7 linked regions of the Homo sapiens genome follow. The protein of the gene in region 6 interacts with the protein of the main gene of each other region in a pairwise test. Each region holds a gene or a part of one and is shown on either strand. Other genes may lie near its edges.

Region 1 (3,500 bases), on a different chromosome or scaffold from region 6:
TTGAGAATTTTAGAGTTATAACAAACTCTTGATTATATATATTCCTGAAGTACCTACTCTGCGTAGGTCCTGGTCCTACTCCCCAAATGGGTCACTGAAAAATTCACCCCCATTATTCCCCAAATCCCACCCTAGTTTTTCATCATGTCATATGGCAAACAACGCACTCTGTGCTGTTTTACACACCAGCTTCTTCAGAACCCGGAAGCACTTTAGAGGTTATCTCCCCTCATCCTCCACCCCCCAAAACACAGCAGTTTCCCCAATAACATTGAGAAAATGGGCTTTAAAGTTCTTCTAGGCCGGGTGCGGTGGCTCATGCCTGTAATCCCAACACTTTGAGAGGCCGAGGCGGGGGAATTGCTTGAGGTCAGGAGTTTGATACCAGCCTGGCCAACATGGTGAAACCCCATCTCTACTAAAAACAAAAAACAAAAAACAAAACTGAGCTGGATATGGTGGTGGGTGCCTGTAATCCCAGCTATTCGGGAGGCCGAGGCAGGAGAATTGCTTGAACCCAGAACCCAGGAAGTGGAGGTTGCAGTGAGCTGAGATTGTGCCACTTCACGCCACCCTGGGGGACAGAACAAGACTCTTTCTCAAAAAAATAAATAGGCCGTGTGCGGTGGCTCACGCCTGTAATCCCAGCACTTTGGGAGGCTGAGGCGGGCAGATCACAAGGTCAGGAGTTCGAGACCAGCCTGGCCAACATGGTGAAACCCCGTCTCTACTAAAAATACAAAAATTAGCTGGGTGTGGTGGTGCGTGCCTGTAGTCCCAGCTATTCGGGAGGCTGAGGCAGGAAAATTGCTTGAATCCGGGAGGCGAAGGTTGCAGTGAGCTGAGATTGCGCCACTGTACTCCAGCCTTGGTGACAAAGCGAGACTCTATCTCAAAAAACAAACAAACAAACAAACAAACAAATAAATAAAGTTCTCCTTGTGCACTTTAAGCAAAGGTGATCATGAAGCAGATCTCATTGGGAAAAACATCTCCTTTCTAATTATCTTACCTGTTTTCATTGAGGGAGCTTCAAGTTCATCGTGTTTATCTAGAAAATAGGAGGGAAGAAAAGGAATTACACTAATCATACAGGAACCTTGGGGACAGGAGTCCTCACGTCCTACTTATAGACATCCTGTTCTTCTTTGGGAAGCAGAAAAGAGAATGGCTTCTCCATTCCCTAGATGCTCCCTGGGTCCTCAGAGCATGGACAGAGCCTCAGATTACTCTTCTTAATAGTCCTGGAGTTTGATAGTATTTTTAATAACAAAAATATTTATGAATGACCCTGCTAACGCCCCCTCCAGTTTGATTCCTTGCCAGTCTTCTCTATCTTGACAAAGAACACCATTCACCCAAATTCTTTCTTTCTTTTATTTTTTTTGAGTCTTGCACTGTTACCCAAGCTGGAGTGCAGTGGCATGATCTCAGCTCACTGCAACCTCCGCCTCCCGGGTTCAAGAGATTCTCCTGCCTCAGCCTTCCAAGTAGCTGGGACTACAGGCGCCCGCCACCACACCCTGCTAATTTTTGTATTTTTAGTAGAGACAGGGTTTCACCATGTTGGCCAGGCTGGTCTCAAACTCCTGGCCTCAAGTGATCAACCTGCCTTGGCCACTCAGAATACTGGGATTCCAGGCATGAGCCACTGCACCTGGCCTATATTTCTATCTCCACAGTGGCACCATTTAGTCTAAGTTAAAATATCACCTACTTGGCCGGGCGCAGTGGCTCACGCCTGTAATCCCAGCACTTTGGGAGGCCGAGGCGGGCAGATCACAAGGTCAGGAGATCGAGACCATCCTGGCTAACATGGTGAAACCCCGTCTCTACTAAAAATACAAAAAGTTAGCCGAGCGTGGTGGCGGGCCCCTGTAGTCCCAGCTACTCGGGAGGCTGAGGCAGGAGAATGGCGTGAACCCGGGAGGCGGAGCTTGCAGTGAGCCGAGATCGCGCCACTGCACTCCAGCCTGAGGGACAGAGCCAGACTCCGTCTCAAAAAAAAAATAAAAATAAAAATAAAAATGAAATGAAATATCACCTACTCACCAGTCCCTGGCAACCACCAGTTGCTTCTGTGAGTTTGGCTTTTTTAGACTACACATATGAGTGAGATCCTGCAGAATTTGTCTTTCTGAGTCTGGCTTATTTTGTTTAGCATGATATATGCGGAGATGTTGATGAAAGGGTATAAGTTTCCAGTTCTAAGATGAAGAAGTTCAGGTGCTCAGCATGGTGGCAATGGATGTGCTAATTAATTTGACTGTGATAATCATTACACAATGTACAGGTGGATCAAATCATCAGATTGTATACCTTGAATATATACAATCTTCATTTGTCAATTTGATATTTTTAAATTTAAAAAGTCGTATTGCCTGAAACGCACCAACTCTTACTACATCTAGTCCCTTATTTTCCAAAAGCAGCCAGAGGCCGGGCATGATGGCCTGTGCCTGTAATCTCAGATGCTTGGGAGGCTGAGGTGGGAGGATTACCTGGGCCTGGGAGGTCAAGGCTGCAGTGAGCTGTGATTGCACCACTGCACTCCAGCCTGGGCAACCGAGTGGGACCCTGTCTCAAAAAAAAAAAAAAAAAAAAAAGCAGCCAGTGACCCTTCCAGCATATAAATAAAATCATGCCATCCTCCAGCTCAACTTCATCAGTGGGTTCCTGTTCTTTCAAAGCAGACTCTAGGACCAGTTCAAACACCCACAAGATCCTAGATGCTCTAGGCCCTGCCTTATGTCCTCCTTTCTGTGTCTCAATCATTCCAGGAACACTCACACTTCTGAGACTTTGCTTTTGCTGCTCTCTCTCCCTGGAGGGCTGTTCTCCAGATATCGGTGTGGTTGGGTCATTCTCATCCTTCATGCTTGTGGCAGATAGACCCTAAGGGGGCACTCAGGAGACTCAGGAGCCCTGCTTCCTGGTGTTCATGCCTTTGTCTAATCCCCTCACCTTGAGTGTGGAGATCTGTGACTTTCTTCTCACCAATAGCTATGGCAAAGGTGATGGGATGTTATGCTCTTGATTATGTTACATTACATAAAACTCTGTTTGCTAGGGCATTTGCTCTCTCTTTCTTCTCTCTCTCTCAATCTCTCTTCTTGCAAGTGCTGCAGAATCATTCTAGCATGAATCCTACAGCTATAAAGAACCAGATATTGCTATCAACCACAGGAGTGGAGAAATGGACCCTTCCCCAGTCAAGCCTCCAGATGAGCCAGATGAGAACACAGCCCTTGTTGACACCTTGATTGCATCCTTATGAGACCCAAAGCAGAGGACTCAGCTAAGCTGTGCCTGGACTCCTGACCCACATCAACTGTGAGATAATAAATAGGTGTTTCAGGCTGCTAAATTAGTGGTAATTTGTTATGCAGCTGTAGATCACTAATACAATGCCTCTCACAGTTATTCTCCATCTATAATGTGTTTTTTAATTACTCTGATAGCTTGCTCTTATTTCTTTCTTTCTTCCAAAGAAGAATGTG
Region 2 (2,924 bases), on a different chromosome or scaffold from region 6:
TAATAAGCAGCAAAGCTCAGAACAACTTAAAAAAAATTTTTTTTTGAGACAGGGTCTCACTCTGTCACCTAGGCTGGAGTGCAGTGGTGCAATCATAGCTCACTACATCCTTAATCTCTGGGGCTCATGCAATCCTCACACCTTAGCCTAACCCAAATAGCTAGGATTACAGGCATGTGCCACCACGCCTGGCTAATTTTTCTATTTTTTGTAGAGATGAGGTCTCCCTACGTTGCCCAGGCTGGTCTTGAACTCCTGGGCTCTAGTGTTCTTCCCACCTCAGCCTCCCAAAGTGTTAGGATTACAGGCATAAGCCACCACACCTGGCCAAAAACTTGTACAGAGTGTTTTGAAGACAATATTTGAGTGTCTTCCAAACAGTAGAGGAGACATCCCTTGGCCCATAGGTAGATAGTCATTGATTAATAAATGTGTCAATGAAGAATATAGAAGAAACTTATAATACAGATCCTTCCACAAAGGTGCTAGTGGCCTAACTAGGATCATATCCAGTATACTCAAATTAATTAAGGCTAATTAAATAGTATATATAGATCCCACAATTTCTTACTTGAAACTTTTGGGGCCAATGCATTTTGGCCAACATTTTCAGATTTTAAAAAGCACTATTGTATGTTAATGTGTGTATGTTTATATCATATATGACTAACACACTCTTAGAAGGACCTACTCATAACAAAACACAGTGATATTTCCACAGTGAAATATGTAATGGTCACATAGCATAAATAAACAAGATAAATAGCCTCACATTGTCAATCTAGTCAGGTGTCATATCTAAATGAGTTTTGGGGCCACTTTGAAAAAAACTTTCCATTTTCAGAGCTTCAGAGATTTGGGTACTGTAGATAAGGGACTGGGATCTGTCATATGGGCTCAACACAGATCCTGGAAGTGTAGAGAGGAAGCTACATTGGAATTAGAAGACTCGGTGAAAGTCTTGTGAATGAGGCAGAATTTGAGCTACAGTGAGTTAATTTTCTGCCCCTGGGAGGTGAGGTCCCCACAATGCCTTGTCACCCTGTTATCAGCCATGGAAGCTATATTTTCCTGCTTGAGCCACTAGGCGCCTGTGGAGTATTTTGTAAATTGCTTTCCTGCGATAGTCTACGTGGTCAGATTAAACAAAAAAAACAAAAACAAAACAAAACAAAACAAAAGAAAAACATGACCCACTGAGATTTGCCCAAAGTGAAGACCCGGAGGAGATGAGTATGCCCATCAAACAGTGCCGGAACGCTTAGGGAGAGAAGCTGGACGGAAGCTGAAGAGGATGGAGCCACATCTGAATACTAGAGAATATAGGCTTTAATCCCTGGCTAATTCCATTCTCTTAATAATTCACTCCATACAATGGAGATCTTTCACATTTCATTCCTAAATCCTTGGTTTACCTACCAGACAGATTGCTAACGTGGCCGATTTTCTCTGACACCTATTCTTCTTTCCCCTCTTCCCATCCTATTTCTCATTTTTTCCCCCTTACCTTAGATAATCTTTTGTCTCTTTCCCCGGAGAGGGATTCGCCCTCAGGAAGCATAGGAATCTGCCTTGGCTGGGTCATCACCTTTCACCACTTCATTACCACCTCTAAAACATCAGGCCAGCCCACAGATGGAGACATACCTCCTGTCCACTATTATTAGAATTCCCTGGGAGACAACACTGTTCCTAAGAGGTTATTGCTGGAAGTGAGTCAGAGGTATAAGGGATATATTGAATCAGGGACGTCTAGGAGGATACTAAAGTGGTTGCCTGTCTGTGAAAACAGGAAGGATAAAGAGAATAAAGACAGAAAGAACAGGAAAATGCAAGCCAGGTCAGAGTAAAGCAAACCGTTCTTCCCTTCAGTCTCCCATTTATGTATGTCCCTGACTTGGGTCTATAATAGTCTAGGAATGTGAAGCAGAGAAAAACTCTAGGGGAAGGAAATCTCAAAATTCAGTCACACGGTGAATCCTTACAGCTATGTTCTCAGATTCCTCTTCTCCCTATGCATGACTAACTACACTATTTCTCATTTGAATTTAGAGGAAATAGGCTGAGGGCAGCCACTTGCATCTTCTGTGTATCCAGCCACACAGCTTCTCTTCTCCTTGATTAAGTTTGATACCTTCTCTGCTGAAATTATTCTTTCACTAACTTTCTTGTTCTTTAGAGCAATAAAGCGGAAACGATGCTAAATGAGAAAAAGACTGTCTCCCATCCCATTCATCCCACATCTACTGGGCACCTCATATGAGCACTATTCTGCTTCTGGACATAATTCAAAAAAGATTTCTCACTCTCTCTTTCTCTTTCTCTCTTTTCCTCTCTCTTTTTCTCATTCTCTTGACCCACCCCCCTCTAACTCCCTGTGCCAGACTCTGACTATAGGACGAACATCTGCTTGCATGACTGACTATAGGACCAACATAGCATAAGTGATCAGTATCGGCTGACTGAATCTCTAAAAGGATCCAGATAAAGAGAAGAGCGGGCCCAAAAAGAAAAAGAAGAGGAAAAGGAGAACAGAGAAAGTAAGGAGAAAAAGAAGCAAAGGACAAAAGCAAAGGTAAGAGATGAAAACAAGAAGCCAAGCAAGGAGGCTGCTAGTAAAAGGTGGGAAGAAAGAGAAAAGGGCAGTGAAGGGTCAAGAAAAAAGAGTTCTATTCTTGCTCCAGCCCATCTTCTATCTTGCTCTACAGCACCACACCACCTCCCCAGCAGACCCCCATACCTAGGCCCTAAATTTTTCCAAGCTCGGAAAAGGAAGCCTGTTCCACATGGTCCTCCAGAAGCCATTACAGATAGAATCACTTTAACTTCATCCGCAATAGAGAAGTGCAGTTGTGCAAAACCCAAGAGTCTTATGTGATTGTTGTAGAGGCTCAGGGTGGGCAGCAGGGAAGAACATGGGTAAA
Region 3 (3,342 bases), on a different chromosome or scaffold from region 6:
GCCCCAGGGTTCCGGCTGCCTGAGGCTGCCGTGAGACACTATCCTGATGTGTAAGTGAGAGGGCCCTGGGCCAGTTACCCGACCTCTGTCTCAGTTTCTTTGTTTATAAAACAGGGTAGTGTGAGAACTAGAGCAGGGGTCCCCAACCCCTGGGCAGTGGACTGGTACCATGGGACCTGTTAGGAGCCAGGCTGCACAGCAGGAGGTGGGTGGCAAGCAACGGCATTACCGCCTGAGCTCTGCCTCCTGTCAGATTGGCAGTGGGATTAGGTTCTCATAGGAATGCGAATCCTATTGTAAACTGTGCATGCTACGGATCTAGGTTGTGTGCTCCTTATGAGAATCTAATGCCTGATGATCTGAGATAGAACAGTCTCATCCTGAAACCATCCCCTCCCACCCTCACCCCAACCCACCCGCCAACCCCCAGTCCATGGAAAAACTGTCTTCCACGAAACTGGTCCCTGGTGCCAAAAAGGTTAGGGAAATAAAGGATTAAATGGTAGTCAGATTTCACGTGTATTTTTGCTAAAACTGAAAGCTGTCAGGATCCACATTGGTGTTACCAGTTTGTACTGAAGCCTGATACAATACCCAACAGTATTGCTCTGGTTTTTTCAAGCACACACTCCAAGCAAGTGGTCAGTCTGGCTTAATTCATTATGGCTTTTTTTCAGGGTAAGAGATTCACACGCAAGAGAATAAGGCTACAAATGCTCCAAACATGGGTCCAGAACTCTGGCTCTTTTGTGAGGCCTAGAGTCACAGAAAATGCCATCTGTTAAGAAGCTGCTTTTGCATAAAAAAATATAAAAAGTTACAAAATTCCATCAAAGACAGATACACAGTATAAATCGTTAGGTGAACACAGAAGGCTGGTCTCATCTCCTGCAGTGGCCCATAGACCTGCCCTGAGGTCTGGAAGTTCACTGTCCTGAGGGTCCAGGAACTCCTGCCTGCTGGCTGGGCTCTAGGAAGAAGGAGGGTTTGGCTGGGCCCGCCCAGCTCCCCATGACACTGTCACTGTGATGCCACTGTTGTACCCTCTGTCTTCTGGACCAGTCAGTCTATGAGCTCTTCTTTGAAACAGTCTTAGACCCAGAATGGTCATCTCACCCCCAGAAGACATGGTTTCCAAGGGTGGGAGGTGTTAGTTATGGGTGCCGAGCCCCACTTCCTGGGCGACAAGGCAAAGGTCAATTTCTCCCTGCTTCAAGAATGAAGAGGGAACTGGTGCTCCTTGAACCAAAGATTCTTGGAAGGGTCATTGTCACCAAAGTGGCTGGTGTGGGCAGGAGCACCAAGTGCAGACAAACCCACCGGGGCCTGGCGGGGCAGCCCTGTCATGGTTTCTGTCTTTGTTCCTGTTAGTGAAACAGAAGACCCCCGACCCCCGCCACCTAGCAGCATGGAACACCTGCTGCCCAGATACAGACAAGGCTCTGCTTTGTCTCCTTGTGCTGGTTTTTGGCAGAGACGTTAAAGGGCTGAAGGCCTGTGGGACAGAAATGGGGAGAAGGAGTGGGATACCCAAGATGCCCTCATACGCAGCGTGGTCAACAGTGCTGAGCTGAGGGGCAAGCCTGGTAGGCTGGGCTCAGGCAGAACCTGAGGCTGTAGGGGGCCTGCTGTGTCCGCAGCCCCCTCTGCAACTCAGAAGTCCAGGCCTCCGCTCCAACGCCAGCGACCCCTGTGAGGCGCAGGGGTGGAGGCCTGTGTGGCTCAGGTTGCCAAGGCACCCGCCAGGCCTTCAGTCAGAGTCCGAGTCGGAATTCTCTTCTGAAAGGAAAGCAGAGAGGATGCTTGGCAGGAGGCTCAGGGCAGCGGTGCCTGGGAACGGTCTCTGGGGAAGCACAGCTGGGTTGCTGGCAGGAGCCTGGGTGCAGGCCTCCTGCAGCTGACTCTACCGTTCCCAGTGATCGCTGGCATCAGGGCAGGCCGCGGGCCTGAGGCCCTCCACAGGCAGCAGCCACTTTCTCTCTCTCTTTTTTTTTTGTTGTTGTTTTTTGTCTTTGAGACAGAGTCTTGCTCATCACCCAGGCTGGAGTGCAATGGCGGGATCTCGACTCACTGCAACTTCCTCCCTCCCGAGTAGCTGGGATTATAAGCGTGTGCCACCACACCTGGCTAATTTTTGTACTTTTAGTAGAGATGGGCTTTCACCAGGCTGGTCTTGAACTCCTGACCTCAGGTGATCTACCCACCTCAGCCTCCCAAAGTGCTGGGGTAACAGGCGTGAGCCACCGTGCCCGGCCGCAGAAGCCACTTGCACCTCCAGGGTGTGGGTGCGGGTGCAGGTGGGGGTGTTTCCACCCCAAGACTGAAGCCCAGGTGCCCCTTCCTCAGGCCCAGCCCCTCCGGAGTCTCCCTGGGCTTTTCTCAGCTGGGTGGGTCAGGGCTGTACCTCTGCATTCCAGCTCTACCCCCACCCCCAGGTTCAGCAGGACAAGGTGAGGACAGCTATTTTCTTGTCCCCCAAACTAAAATATACTGGAAAATCAGCAAGCCTCTTTTTAGCCATTTTATATCTTCAATCCCCCTCCCCCAATCCTTGTTTAATATTGTAATCAGAAACAATTTTATAATGGTAAGGGCCTGCCTATGAGGTGTACCTCGAGGGTTCCTGAAATCCCAGTTCTGTCTCGGAGCTCTGTAGAGCCTTCTGGAACCTCCACCCCAGAAGGAAAAGCACCAGAGTCACTAACCCCCAACCCCACCCCAGTGCTGGTTGCTACTTCCTGATGCTCATCCCCTCCCTGGCCAGCCTCTGTCTCTCAGAACCCCAGTCAGTCCCCATGAGCTGTCGCTGGCTCATGGCTGGGCTCAGGGCTGGGGTGTGGGCAGCCTAGTCCCTAAACCCCAGCTCTGTCCCTCACTCCGGTTCCTGGGCTGCACTCGTCAGATTTTGTGGGTTTTGCTATATTCAATTTTTTCCCCCCGAGATGGAGTCTCACTCTGTCGCCCAGGCTGGAGTGCGATGTCTTGATCTCAGGTCACTGCAACCTCTGCCTCCCATAGGTGATTCTCCTGCCTCAGCCTCCCAAGTAGCTGGGATTACAGGCGGGCACCACCATGCCTGGCTGATTTTTGTATTTTTAGTAGAGATGGGGTTTCACCGTGTTGGCCAGGCTGGTCTCAAACTCCTGACCTCAAGTGATCCACCCGTCTCGGCCTCCCAAAGTGTTGAGATTACAGGCGTGAGCCACTGTGCCTGGCTGCTATATTCAATTCTAACATATAAGTCAAGAATAATTTTACAGCAAAATAATTGTTACATATGTGAAACTCTCCAAATAGTAAAACAAAAAAAACAAAATAAAACCACCCAAGTTTCCACTGACG
Region 4 (4,152 bases), on a different chromosome or scaffold from region 6:
ACTTCAGAGCCCGTTAATAAAGGTTGAAATCATGAGAATGGAGATACCTTCTAGGGCTTAGATATAGTGGGAAAAGGGAAGACAATAAAACACCCAAAAATCAAGGGAAATGGGGGGAAATAGTACCAGTGAAGGGACATTAAAAGGAGCAAGCAGAAAGGTAAGAGGAAAATCAGAATAAGAGAGTATCCCAGAATTCATTCAGTAGCTGATGCTACTGATCCCGCTCCTCTTGAAACTTTCCAGGGATGGAAACTATCAGAATGGTTACTATAGCAGAATGGTTAGTAAGAATACAGAACTCAGGGGACATTAAACAGTGTGTCACAGGACTTCCCCCCACCTCCTGCCCAGTGACACAGCTTGCTGCTGCTATTCCATATCTGAAACTTTGTTTACAGAATGTGATACAAGAAAGTAAACTGCAAAGTTAAGAGAAAGCAGGTCTCAGGCTCTGGAGAGCTGGCATGACTCTCAGAACTCTTGCAGTGAAAAGGTGTGAAATAGTTGAATAACGGGTAGAGGATGCTGTATCCAAGGTGTTCTTTTTAAAACCCAAGACATGGAACCCAGCGATTTTTGGAGTCAGTACGAAAAGAGCTCTGATGGAGATTGGTTGATAGTGACGTTTTAGATTTGATTGTTGGGAAAATGTGCAGAGCCAGAAAGGAAAGTGACTTATAATGGACAAGAGAGAGCTAATTTTAAAGAGGAGAGGTATCTTCATTAGCAATTTGAGGAAAGGATGTGATTATAGGTCCCCATCTCAAGTCTTTTTTGGAAAATAAATATGTATTTTTTTAATTATTGAAGTTTTCTAAGTGGATTGTCTCTGAAGATGAAATGACTAATTTTATTAGTCTAAATTGATAGAAAAGTTTTTGATTCCCATATGATAAATTAATCACTAGTCTTCTTTAGTATTTTTATTCTATACTACCTCATTATTATTTAGAAGGCTCTTATTTAGTGAATTATGGTTTCAGTGGAATTTATACAGGGACGCCGTTCTGGTTTTGTTTTGTTTTGTTTTGTTTTCTTCCTTCCCTTTAAAGAGAAGCCCATTTTCTGCAATGGTTTAAAGTGTGCTAGAAATTCAGGTTAAGATGTAACCCAAACATTCAAATTATATTGCAACTAACTGAAAGAATGTGCTTTTATCTAGAGGTGATCTTAGAAGAAATTAGTAGATGCACTTTGCCCCTGGCCACTGCTTCTCCCTACCGTATTGTAACTTTTAGTCATTCTATCCTATTTTTAGAGTCCCAGGAACCTGCTATTGTCTAACTCTTTAAGTATCCCCACCTCAGAAGTGATACCTCATGCTCTAAAGTTTCGCGATCCCAGCCAGCAAACGAGTGCCTCTTCTTTTTGTCTCATTTCCTCCCCAGAACTCTAGCTCCCCTAATAAAAGAACATTTGCAAATGTGTTCCCATGTCATCTTTCCCGAGCAAGATCCATTTTAACAGGAAATATAAAGAGACAGTCCTTTGATGCAAGTGAATTATTTTAATGGTGGGTATTTTAGATATAAGTCAATCTGTGAGAGCAAGACACATGACTTTTGAGATTTTTACCAGACATACCATACTGTAGTTTCAGTCATTATAGAGGTTCAGATGTAAAATATGAATTCCCCAATGTGTCCCAAGCTGAGAAAAAAAGATTTTAAACTGAGCAAATCAAAGCCCATATTGTTTAAATTTTCAGTAGCAGAGTCCATAAGTTAACATAGCTTAGAAGGCTAAATGTTTATTTCCTGAGATTCTCTTTGTCTTACCTTTTCCTCTATTAAAACGCAGAGTGTATATTTATTTTAAAGAATTTTTTTTTCTTACAGATGAAGAAAAAAACTTTGATCAAACCAGATTCCTGGAAGACAGTCTGCTTAACTGGTGAAAATATACTGGATTATGTTTAATTATGGTTCTATTCTCTTTGAAAACATGAACCATGTGAATAAAACCTTTGGACCCTTTTATTCCATTTGTAATCTTAAGAACACACACAGATAGTTTTATTCTTTCAGAAACAAAATATATATAGGATGCTTAGCTGAGAACATCATCTTCTTTCATTGCTTCAGGTCCTGTTTAGATGACCAAAAATGTTTTCAGATCACCTTGTGTCTTACTCTTGAGTTTCTTAGAATATTTATAATTATAAGGCTGAAGACTAAAGTGTTCTTTCCTTTTAACTATAGCCAGTACCTGTCTTGATCTTAGTTGTGTTTTTTTTTCATTTTGTTACCCACTTGCATTTTGTTTTCACTCAGCAGAAATTCTCCTTCTCTGTTTTCCTTTTATCCCATCCCCAAGAATGTGGAAGGAAGGTGAGAAACATGGCAGGATGGGAAATAGGAGAGTATGACTCTCTATAGCTCATCCAGGAGTAATCAATTAAGAAGATAAATTGGATGACTGTGGAGAAGCTCTGTGATAGGAACACTTCAGTGTGGTTGCTGAGAGGAGACAGTCATTGAGGTAGAAGGTTTGCCAAAGATCCAGAGCTCAGAGCTCCCTTTGTGCTCTTTGGGAATTACCTTGCATTCAGTTTAGAAACATGGATCTAAAAGTTACTGGGAAATAAGCAGATGGAGACACACTCTGTTGTTTACGTATTGGAAGAAGGGAACAAGCCAGTTTTGTTAGAGGTAACTCATTTTCCATGACCAAACAGACTCAACAGATTCAAGTACTCTGCTTACTCTAATTGACTAGACTCTAGGTTTTATTTGACATCATAGCATTACATAAATCACTCTGATAACATAAGTGCACAGTAATATGCCTGATCTCTTCCTTTTTAAAAGCCAACTTGAGTTCAGTACCATCTGAATACACACACATGCACATATACCCACACACGCATACACACATACTCCTGTGGCAAACATAATAATGTATTTATTTAGAATTATAATATGACCATCATGTTAATTATTTTTTACCTAATCAGAGTTGTTATTGACAAATGTCATAAGTGGAAAGTATTAATTCTTATTGTCATCAGTATTTAGCCATTATTTAGTAGCTCAAGAATATCTTTATGTGAATGTCTCTGTAACTTGGAATTGCAATTTCACTGTGTTAAGTAATCAGAACTCTGCTTATAAGATTTATCTGTATCTTGTTTCATAATTTAATAATGAAACTAAATTCAAGTTAATGTAATGTTGATCTCCGTCGAAAAATAACTTGTGAGCATTAAAATATCTGTATGGCATTATAATAGGCACCTGTCATTAATTATGATTTGATTTGAAAGTAGACTTACTAGGTAGTGCTTACATCTGATTTATTGAAAATTTTTTCCAAAAGCATTGTCTTTTATTTATACAGTCCTAACCACTTCACCATTAGGAGGGGTGGGACATTAAAAATTATTTACCCATCAGACATAAAATTGTACAAATTGACTATTCAAAATAGTATGTGTATTCAAAGAACACTTTTAACATCTATCTTATGAAATAATTCTTCCTACAACTAACCAGAACAATCTCAAAAATGTCATACTAACCATTGTTTTAAAAGCTGTCTCAATGATCAATAGCTGTTAAAATATAGCTCCAAGTATTCTAAGTACTCAAATTCCTTGAATGTTCTTATGTACAAATATGCTGATTAATTAAAAGGTCCCTCTTCCCAATTTTCTATAACTTTCCAACTCTCTTATGGTGTCTATATTCTGTTTATTTCTAGATTTTTAAAAAACCAAAATGAACAAGTGATCATAGATCAGAAAACCTTCACATTATATGGCTTGTGTTTTAAAATTGGGAATTTTCTGGCTTCAACACACAGATACATGCACTAGAATACCTTGATCTGCAGGGAGCGCTTTCAGCCACTTTCTGCACAGTTCTCATTGCCCTTCTCTTTTTTGCCTCTATAGCCTACCTCGGCTATCTGGCCTCCATCCTGGGCTCTTAATTATTCTTTGTTTTCCAGTAGTTGCCTTCGCTCCCTCAATACCATCATTGTGTTCCTAAGAGAGGAGAGAAGAAGGCGAAGTGACCCTGGCTTGTTCAGATTAGCCTCCAGCTTGCATTTCTTCTTTACCTGGTTATGATAAATGAAAATGTGTATCTTACAATCTTGAATTACATTATTTTATCTTGACCACAAAGAAAGGGAAGTTGGGAATGT
Region 5 (4,105 bases), on a different chromosome or scaffold from region 6:
TCACTATGTCAGAGAGTCTCTTGTTGACTATCCTGTTTAAATTTGTTTCTGTGCCCTAGACATGCTTATACTTCTTTAGCACACTTATCATTGCCTAAGATATGTACTATTTATTTACTTTGTATCTGCATCTCCCAACTACAATGTAAACTCTCCAAAGACAGGACTTTTGTCTCTCTTTGTCTGCAGCATCTAGAAGAGGACCTGACAGCTGGGGTCATTCAATAAATATTTCTTGAATAAAAGTCATTGCTGAAAAACTAATGGAGGGCATTAGATGGTTTACATGCAGAGTGCCTACATACTGCTGTAGAGTGACATGGTGGTTATCTTCTGACCTACAGGGACTGAGATAAAAAATGTGAGTGCTTTGGAGGCTTAGCAACTGTGGTGTGGCAAAGGAAACCATGGGCAAATCAAATCTTGGCATAAATAGCTCTAATAATAAGTGAGTTTGAGTACCATGTTTGTAACATATAAAATATGACAGACTAAATTATAAATAAGGACCTCTGACATTATGGGCTTCAATCTGTGCTAGTCAAACTGGGAAAGAAGATGATGAAAGAAATCATTATTCCTATAAATAGAAAAGAGAAAAATAAGGAGCATACATGTAAAAATGTGCTTGAAATTTATTGCTTTTAGAGAAGTGATTTCTATTATTCAGAAACAGTACTGAACACAGCTTAACAGTTTAAATTGCAATTATATCATCAAGTGACAATTGAAAAGGCAAGTATCCTGAAACAAAGAGTATACAGTAAATTATAGTGTTTTTCATTTGCATTGCTCTTTGATGATTCTTCAAAAAGTGGTAGTAGTGTGATATGGTATGAAAGATGAGAATATGGATGTAGAAGTCGTATTTGCCAATCAAGCCTGCACAGAAAAAAAAAAATAACAGATTATCTGTAAAATTTTTACCCCTGTAAACACATTTATATTCTGGCCTGGTACAGAGTAGATATTATATACAATTATAGTTTATAAAATGCAGGGCCCAAAATAATATTTGACACAGAGTAGACAATTAAACAATTATTAAATTGGTTCCTGAATAAATAAAAATTATCATTCAGCATCTACAATTTAAATTATTTTTCAATCATCATACTATTTTATTCTTCTACTTAAATATAGCCTACACATTTCATTTATATGCATTTCCTCTAAATAATATTTCAATACATCTTTTCTTGATTAAATGTCATCAGCTATTACCTAAAACCTAGGGGATCAAGTTCAGGCTCTTCCCTGTATCACTAATGGCAATAGAGAATTGAATTGGAATATAATCTCCCAAATGCACTGAAAAATAATTGAAATCCTTTGGACTATTTTAACTTTGTAGAACAATCCTCCCTTATCTCCAAGAGTTTGCTCTATTTTGTTTTGAAATATTATTTTTTCATAGAATTTAGAACATTTAATGTTGTGTAGAGATAGGTAAAACTGACTTTCTAAAAAGAAATTGATAACATTTCCATATTTTCTTGTTAGCATTATGTTAATAATTTCTATAGTAATTGCTCAGTAGAGTTACTTAGGGTACAAAATGCAAATTTCTCACAAGTTCCCAGATGGTTCCCAGATGGAAGCTTCTCCAAAGATTGCATTTTGGGAGTGAAAACTTTAAGCAACACCTAGGTACAGATTTAGTGGCAGGGAAGCCCTGCAGTTATAACTACAAACCTTTCTGATCAAGAGATTTTATGTGATATGTCTTTCAAAAGTGTCACCAATTCTAAAAAGCACATTTAAGTGTTATCATAATACACAATTTTTTGACGAGAAAACTGAGGTTCAGGAGCATTAGGAGTAGTTCAAAGTCATGAAACTAGTAGTTGTCAGGGCCAGCATACAAACCCTGGTGTCCCCCACTCTATAACACTGCCTTCTAACCATAGCAGGACAGAGACTATCTCAGAAGCATTTATATAAATTAATACATTTCAAGGAGCTATACAGCTGGCTGCTTTCTTATACTGGAACTGCTGTTGGTTTAATGTCTTGTTTTTGTTTTTCTTCTTTTAACTGTCAGCACTGATACAGAAAGTAAAAAAAATGTCACTAAACCCATCTTACCTCAATAATCATGTCCTGCAGTTACTGATGATATTAAAAGGTATATTGTTGGTATTGTGGTTGGTATGGTTGTGGGTATAGTGGTTGTTCTGGAACTGGCTGATAAGGGCCATACCCATACTGTATACACACAAGGAGAAAGAAAATTGCAGAAAATTGAGATAATGACAGTGCAAGCGTTTTTATTAGAAGCTTAGATTGTTAAAGTTTTAGGAACTTACATATTACTTATAAGATTTTTTTCCAAACTTTCAATTAGATTTTTCTTTTTGGTTATAAACACATTTTAAAAGCAGGTAAAAATGATTGAGTGTTTACCTTTGTACTGCATGTTCACAGTTTTGTGGTTTTATTTCACATGCAGGAACACCGATTATAGGCTATCACTCCAAAGAGGTTTTAAATTTTCTTCAAAATACTACCTCCCAGCAACCATTTTGCCCACCTTTGAGTATTATGGGAAGGAGACATTTACTAAATTCAGCTTATGTGGTGTTTCTTCAAGTCACTCTTTTAATGAGCTTACTGTCTCTTACGATTCCTACATTCCTTAATACTTCTTCCTTCTGTTAACACAAATAACCATCATCCCTTTTAGAGTATCTTTTTATTTGGTGTTATTTTAATCCATGTATTCACTATATTAGTTAGGGGATCTTTTGCAACCCTATCACATTGACATTATATGTCAACATACTGGGACATCAAGATACATACATTAAGAAAAATGTTAAATAAATGAAATTTGCTATCTCATTTATCATGACCTGTTTAATTTAATGAGTTTATCACCGTCAAAAAAAATCAGAAGGTGCAAACTTACCATATTTTATGTGTAATTATCAGCCTTTATGCTCCATGAGGCATATATTATAATTAACAGAATTAGAATTTCAACTATTTTTTAGGTCAAAGTGATTACTTAGGAGATGATACTTGAGGGCTCAGGGAGTAACTGGTTTCTTCAGGTTGGCACTATGAGTTTCAACTTAAATGTTGTTAGGACACAATACATTTGTGACTGTTACCTGTGTATCATAAATAGAGGAAAACAAAGCACACTTTTGCAACTACTACACATATTTGAGAAATAAGTATTGGTTCTTCTAGAAGAATAAGTAATCAGAGAACACAATTTATTTGGACTACACAGCATTATCAGAGAACACTTACACCGAATCTTCCAATTCTACGCAAAAATTTCTGTGAAAAATGAAGAAAAGTTTAATAATTCAATACAAATGTAGGGAGGACAAAACTGAAAACAAGTTTTCCAGTGAATGAAAATGACTCACCTCTTCAGATGAATCAGCTCCCTTAGAAAACAGAAAATTAGACAATAGTTAGTATCTTAATGTTATAATTCCAGATTGAGTACAAAAATGAACTCAGCAGCTACAGTTGTGAGTAAACAGGATGTAGGCAAATCATCGATAGACACTAAATTAGTTATTTTTGCTTCATGACATCTTTAAAATGAGTTAAGAGTATGCTTTTCTGTAATTAGTGTGCTATATTCAAATATAAATTTATTTGGATTTATACTTGTTTTGTGTGTAAAAGGGAGTAAATGGTTATCATTGGTGAATGAAAAGTGAAACTTTGTATTTTTTCATAAGAATATGTTTTCAGCAGCTCAAAGGCTACTTACACATAACTTTTATTTACTGACAGAGACAAGCATTATGTTTTTCTCTGTTTTCCTTACATTTTTATTTTTTATTTTTTAGACACCTATCCTTTTATAACAAATAATGTGGTATACTGTGATTTTATAATCAAATTAGTTTTTGAAATATCTGTTAGAATTTACCAGGTAAGTTGAACTATTTTTATTCTTTCATGGCCAGTTTCCTACTAATGTCATAGAAAAGGGACAGGAGAAATAGAAGGAAGTAGAGTAGAAGAAAGAGCTCCAGAGAAGTCAAGTGCTTTACCTAGTGATACATAGTAGTAAATGACAATAAAAGCTGGGAACTCATAACATGTCATAGATCTGAAGTTTTGTTTTATAGTT
Region 6 (2,441 bases):
GATCATGAGGTCAGGAGATCAAGACCATCCTGGCTAACACGGTGAAACACCATCTCTACTAAAAATACAAAAAATTAGCTGGGTGTGGTGGTTCGTGCCTGTAGTCCCAGCTACTCGGGAGGCGGAGGTAGGAGAATCGCTTGAACCCGGGAGGTGGAGGTGGTAGTGAGCCGAGATTGTGCCACTGCACTCCAGCCTGAGTGACAGAGTGACGTGTCAAAAAAAAAAAAGAGATGAGGTCTTGGCCGGGAGCGGTTGTTAAGAGATGGGGTCTTGGCCAGGCACGGTGGCTCACGCCTATAATCCTAGAACTTTGGGAGGCTGAGGCAGGTGGATCACCTGAGGTCAGGAGTTCGAGACCAACCTGGCCAAAATGGTGAAACCCTGTCTCTACTAAAAATACAAAAATTACCTGGGCATGGTGGCGGGCACTTGTAATCCCAGCTGCTCGGGAGGCTGAGGCAGAAGAGTTGCTTGAATCCAGGAGGCGGAGGTTGCAGTGAGCCGAGATCACAGCGTTGCACTCCAGCCTGGGCAATAAGAGTGAAACTCTATCTCAAAAAAAAAAAAAAGAGAGAGAGAGAGAGAGAGAGATGGGGTCTTGCTGTGTTGCCCAGCCTGGAGTCCAGTGGCACAATCACAGCTCAGTATAGCCTCCGAATTCCTGGGCTCAAGCCATCCTCCCACCTCAGCCTCCTGAGTAGTTGGAGATACAGGTGCACACCATCTCACCTAATTTTTTTCTTTCTTTTTTCTTTTTCTTTTTTTTTTTGTAGAGATGAGGTCTCACTTTGTTGCCCAGGCTGGTCTCAAACTCCTGGCTTCAAGAAGTCCTCCTGCCTTAGCCTCCCAAAATGCTGGGATTACAGGCGTGAGCCACCTCACCTGGTCCTGGATCTCTTTTCTGTATATGTTCATTTCTTGTTGGTCTCATCTAGTCTCATGGCTTTAAATACTATCTGAATTCAAATTCCCGCCCAAGTGTATACTCCAGCCTGGACCTTGGTTCTGAATTCCAGATTCACTCATCTAGTTGCCTACTGCACAGTTGTTGTTATTGTTGTTGTTGTTTTGCTGTCAGGCGGGCATTTCAAACCTAACATTTCTAAAACTGAGCGCTTGTTCCTTCTGGAGCAACTCCATCCCTTTGGTTGTTTAGGTCAAAAACCTTGGCATCATCCTTAACTAAAGTTATTTCCGTATTATCACCATTTCTGCCTGTTTCCACTGCTACCACTCTGGCCCAAGCAAGTCACCATCATCTGTTGACCGTTATTGCAGAAACTTCCCACCTGGCCTCCTTTCTTCTGCTCTTGGCTCTCAGCACAGCAGGCAGAGTGATTCTGTTGAAGTCATACCATGTTACTTCTCTGCTCAAAACCTTTCAAAGCCTCTGTACCGCTCAGATTCAAAGGCAGAGTCCTTCCAGTAGCCCTGGAGACCATACCTCATGTGGCTCTTGTTCCTTCTTCTGTCTTGACGCCTCTCTTCCCACTGGCCACCTTACTGTTCTCAAACATGCCAGGGAGGCACCTGCCTCTGTGCTTGCTGATCTCTCTGCCTAGAATGTTCTTGCCCCAGATGTCTGCACGGTGCTCCTCCTTCTCCTTCAGGTCTGCACTCAAATGTCACCTCAGTGAGTCCATCCCCACCTGCCCTTCCACAAGGCTGGGATTTTGGTCTGTTTTGTTTTGTTCAGTGCCCTGTCCTCAGTGCCTAGAACAGAGCCCATGCTAGGTGCTTAATAACTATTGACTAATTGACTGGATCAGCAGATAAATGAATGTATGGGCAAGGCTGGGCTCTTCCTTGGCCAGGGCTCTGATGGATAATTTTTTTTTTTTTTTTTGAGATGGGGGTCTCACTCTGTCACCCAAGCAGGAGTGCAGTGGCGCAATCTTAGCTCGCTGCAATGTCTGCCTCCTGGTCTCAAGAGATCCTCGTGTCTCCTGAGTAGCTGGGATTACAGGCTGATTTTTGTATTTTTAGTAGAGACAGAGTTTCACCATGATGCTCAGGCTAGTCTTTTTTTTTTTTTTGAGACAGAGTGGAGTCTCGCTTTGTTGCCCAGGCTGGAGGCAGTGGTGTGCTCTCAGCTCACTGCAACCTCCGCCTCCCGGGTTCAAGCGATTCTCCTCCCTCAGACTCCCAAATAGCTGGGACTACAGGCATGTGCCACCACACCCAGCTAATTTTTTGTGTGTTTTTAGTAGAGACGGAGTTTCACCATGTTAGCCAGGGTGGTCTCAAACTCCTGACCTCAGGTGATCCGCCCGCCTCGGCCTCCCAAAGTGCTGGGATTACAGGCGTGAGCTACTGCGCCTGGTTTTTTGTTTTTTTTTTTAATTTGAGATGGAGTTTCACTCTTGCTGCCCAGGCTGGAGTACAATGGCGCAATCTCGGTTGACTGCAGCCTCTGCCTCCCGAGTTCAAGCGATTCT
Region 7 (3,500 bases), on a different chromosome or scaffold from region 6:
GGAGGACCATACTAAGGCCTTTTTCAGGTCAAAAAGGGTTTTCACATTGACCTTTTTTACTTTTAAGTATTTTTCCTCAGAATGTTCCTTCAGTTAAAAATCAGGTTTAATCTGGAGCTCTTACTGATTTTTCTTTGATTCCTACTGAACACCTAGCTACTGGCCATGGTTTCTTTGAGGAAAAAAACACCATTGCTGAAGCATTTCTAAACATTTTTAATGCATGCAGAAAGAACTACATAGACTCTCCAAGCAGCTATATAAGGTGGCTCAAGTAACATTATGATTTATTTTGGTCTAAGCCCTTTCATAACGTCCTTTTAAAATACAAAGAGAATGGCTACGAAATGGTGCCAGAACCCAGAAGGCCCAGCTGGACTGACAGGAGCTCTGAGCAGTTCATAGGACAAGCAGGGACCCGCCGAACCTCTCCCGTTTCTGTGCTTTCTCTAAATGCAGCAGGTCCTCTCTTTACTGCCCATGCTTTTAAACTATGAAAAAAAATTTTTTAAAGAAATCTAGCAGTGATTAATGGAGACCTCAAATAACACTGTACATGGGCTTTGTTAGAGACAGGTAATCATTCTTAACAGCTCTTTTCCCAGAGGAGGCCTGGGTGGGCCGAGAGGCATCCAGAGTTTAGGAAGTGCTTTTATTGCAGACTGCACCTTGGCTAATACTATCCTCTATGTACTGGCTGCCTGTGTCACTCCTGCTGAGGACTGTGGAGGGGATGCGAGAGGGACGCCTCTCTGGGTTCTCCTGAGAGAAGCAGCAGATCATCTTCTTCATGGTGCCATACATGTCCTCGTCCTTGTAGGAGTAGATGATGGGGTTCACGACGGAGTTGAGCAGCGCCAGCAGCAGGAACCACCTTTTCACATGCTGCACGCCACACTGCCTGCAGTTCAGGCCGTCGAGGAGCAGAACCACCAGGCCCGGGGTCCAGCATACCACAAACGCCCCTGCAAGGAGAGAAGAGGAGGCAACAGATGCTCAGACCTTAGGGGACTTATTCAGGTTTTCTTCTCTCCCAGCCTTTAGCCAGTGGCATCAAGGGGCCCTCATGATTTGTTTTGACAACTGCAAGGCAAACTTCCACCTACCATCTGAGCATTTGAGACCTACGCTTGGTACAGGCAAATAGGTGGGAACCTCCTTGACTATCAATCACATTTCATTTCACTTTCTTTTCTGCTTACCCAGGTCTTGTGATTATGAGAGACTCACATTTACATTCTGCTTAGGAGGCAGTGCACATGCATGATCTCCGTTAGTTCTCTGAACCACACTGGGAGGCTTTGTTGCACTCATTATCCACATTGGACAGATAAGAAAACCAAGGCCCAATTCTAGGGGGAGATGAGAGGAGAACTCTCTGACTCCAGGGCTCCCATACTTCACCCTACATTCTGCTGTTACAGAAATCAGATTTTCTAAATGTGCTCTTGAAAATAAGACACAATGAGTCTACGGCATTCTTCTAGTAGTTTAACCAAATCACCTGCTCATAAATTTCATTCTTCATAAATTCATGTGGATGCTTAGTAAGCACTATATTCTTTTTGACATATTCACGGGCCATCTGCATAATCATCTGCTCTACATTTAGATTTTTTGGTCAGAAATAAATCTTTCATGATGAGATAGTTAAAAATCTACTTTTCAGACTCTGCAATTGAATATGAACCGTAGTCTCTTCTGAGTCTCTAGCCACAGCATCATACTTACCTTATCTCTAAATTTCATGATATTTTTCTCCCATTAAGACATGGGTCCACTATTTCCCTACTATTATCATAACCTCAGATAGCAATAACGACTCATCTTTATACAGCACTTACTATAAGCGAGGCACTGGTGCAAACGCTTTCCTTGATTAACTCACAGGACCACACTATGACATTGGCATTATTATTATCCCCAGGAAACCGAGGCACAAGAGAAGTTAAGTAACTTGCCTATGATCAAATAACTCTTAAGAGACACGATTTTGAACAGAGGCCGTCTTTCTCCACAGGCTGTGCCCTGGGCCACTATATGACCCGCCTCTGTAGTATGATGTGGTTGCTTTCGGCGAATGTCCTTGTCATTTCTAAATGCACTTGCTTGTCCACTCATAAATATTCATCTGAAGCTAACAATGTGCCAGGAGCTGTACTAGACAGTGAGTGAGGTGAAGGCCACGCACTCAGGGAGCTAAAATACTAACAGAGAAGACGACAAACAAGCAAGTCTATAGATGATATCACCAACTACTCTACTTGTTAGAATTAGTTCTGCATAGTATTTCTCTTGTTGCTTTATCTTACTTCTAAGAGATATAATACCAAGCAGGGAAAGACAAGGATTATAAAGAGGCAGTGTAAGGCAGGGAAGAGCCACGAACTTTGGGGTCAGACATGTATGCACAGCTCAACCTATGAGTGACCCGAATTATGGGAATTACTTCACTTTTCTCAGCCTCCATTCCCTCCTTTATACAATAAAGTTAATAAACCCAACTATGTGAGGTGGTAGTTGTGAGGATCAGAGGTCATGGAAAGTGGTACCCAACACTGTGGTGGGTTCACTGAGCAGCAGTTATCATGAGGTGCTCTGTTTCCACAAAAAATATCTATATGTTTAGTAGCTAGCAGGGGGGTTGAATTCCTTATTTCATAATTACGGTTCAGCAGTGGTTCCCTTTTTTCTCCACCTTGTATTATTATTTTCGGTCTGGCTGATATATGTGAATAAAGAACTGGACTTGGAGATAAGAGATCAGAGATTTGGGTTCTAATTCTTCACTTACTGTACAACTCTGGGAGACCCATGTCATTGCGCTGGGCTCAGCTTCCTCAGCTGTAAACTGAGGACTGACTTTAGGCTAGGTCTGAGTTTTTCTAGTGGTGGGTCAGAACTTGTTAGTGGGTGTGCAATCAATGTGACAGATTCAGACTGGTTTTTTGTTTTATTCAGACTGGTTTGAAACAAGTGAAGGAACTGGATGGGCAGCCAAGTTTGCAACTACCAACTTGAGAATTCATATTAGTAAGTTTTTAGCCATACCACCCGATAATTGTGTCTGAGAAACAAACAAGTCAAATTTGTTTGAGTTTTATGGAGAGTTAAAAGCCACAGTTTCACAGAATTCGGCAGTTTCCTACTTGGAAAAGAGTTCAGAAGCCGCTTAGCCTGATCTTTCATTCATAGGAAAAAGGCCTTCCCTTTGTACATCTCAGAACAATCCAGGCAAAGGAAATGCCCTGGTCAAGGGAGGCTCTTCAACTGCTGAACAATGGTTTCTTCTCTTAAATAACTTCATTTAGGCTGGGCGTGGTGGCTCACATCTATAATTCCAGCACTTTGGGAGGCTGAGGTGGGTGGATCACCCAGGTCAGGAGTTCGAGACCAGCCTGGCCAACATGGTGAAACCCTGTCTCTACTAAAATGCAAAAAATTAGCTGGGCATGGTGGCAGGCACCTGTAGTCCCAGCTGCTTGGAAGACTGAGGCAGG

The links.
Region 1: the proteins of MRM1 (region 6) and VSTM1 interact in binary tests that used the Homo sapiens proteins (3 or more experiments, as listed by UniProt).
Region 2: the proteins of MRM1 (region 6) and RNASE10 interact in binary tests that used the Homo sapiens proteins (3 or more experiments, as listed by UniProt).
Region 3: the proteins of MRM1 (region 6) and CMTM3 interact in binary tests that used the Homo sapiens proteins (3 or more experiments, as listed by UniProt).
Region 4: the proteins of MRM1 (region 6) and SPX interact in binary tests that used the Homo sapiens proteins (3 or more experiments, as listed by UniProt).
Region 5: the proteins of MRM1 (region 6) and STATH interact in binary tests that used the Homo sapiens proteins (3 or more experiments, as listed by UniProt).
Region 7: the proteins of MRM1 (region 6) and LPAR3 interact in binary tests that used the Homo sapiens proteins (3 or more experiments, as listed by UniProt).

Annotation. Positions count from the first base shown.
Region 1 is NC_000019.10:54,050,398-54,053,897, forward strand, and holds part of VSTM1 (V-set and transmembrane domain-containing protein 1 isoform 1 precursor), read right to left. Parts: intron 2,578-3,500; coding exon of another isoform or gene 2,502-2,577; intron 1,052-2,501; coding exon 1,013-1,051; intron 1-1,012.
Region 2 is NC_000014.9:20,511,461-20,514,384, reverse strand, and holds the end of RNASE10 (inactive ribonuclease-like protein 10 precursor), read right to left. Parts: 3' UTR 501-2,924; downstream 1-500. UniProt on the Homo sapiens protein: Secreted proximal epididymal protein required for post-testicular sperm maturation and male fertility. May be involved in sperm adhesion to the egg zona pellucida. Does not have ribonuclease activity.
Region 3 is NC_000016.10:66,611,046-66,614,387, reverse strand, and holds the end of CMTM3 (CKLF-like MARVEL transmembrane domain-containing protein 3), read right to left. Parts: intron 1,780-3,342; coding exon 1,751-1,779; 3' UTR 501-1,750; downstream 1-500.
Region 4 is NC_000012.12:21,529,296-21,533,447, forward strand, and holds the end of SPX (spexin precursor), read left to right. Parts: intron 1-1,841; coding exon 1,842-1,900; 3' UTR 1,901-3,652; downstream 3,653-4,152. UniProt on the Homo sapiens protein: Plays a role as a central modulator of cardiovascular and renal function and nociception. Also plays a role in energy metabolism and storage. Inhibits adrenocortical cell proliferation with minor stimulation on corticosteroid release.
Region 5 is NC_000004.12:69,998,966-70,003,070, reverse strand, and holds the end of STATH (statherin isoform a precursor), read right to left. Parts: intron 3,405-4,105; coding exon 3,384-3,404; intron 3,292-3,383; coding exon 3,262-3,291; intron 2,209-3,261; coding exon 2,122-2,208; 3' UTR 2,089-2,121; intron 883-2,088; 3' UTR 501-882; downstream 1-500. UniProt on the Homo sapiens protein: Salivary protein that stabilizes saliva supersaturated with calcium salts by inhibiting the precipitation of calcium phosphate salts. It also modulates hydroxyapatite crystal formation on the tooth surface.
Region 6 is NC_000017.11:36,604,583-36,607,023, forward strand, and holds part of MRM1 (rRNA methyltransferase 1, mitochondrial precursor), read left to right. Parts: intron 1-2,441. UniProt on the Homo sapiens protein: S-adenosyl-L-methionine-dependent 2'-O-ribose methyltransferase that catalyzes the formation of 2'-O-methylguanosine at position 1145 (Gm1145) in the 16S mitochondrial large subunit ribosomal RNA (mtLSU rRNA), a universally conserved modification in the peptidyl transferase domain of the mtLSU rRNA.
Region 7 is NC_000001.11:84,813,207-84,816,706, forward strand, and holds part of LPAR3 (lysophosphatidic acid receptor 3), read right to left. Parts: intron 966-3,500; coding exon 640-965; 3' UTR 1-639. UniProt on the Homo sapiens protein: Receptor for lysophosphatidic acid (LPA), a mediator of diverse cellular activities. May play a role in the development of ovarian cancer. Seems to be coupled to the G(i)/G(o) and G(q) families of heteromeric G proteins.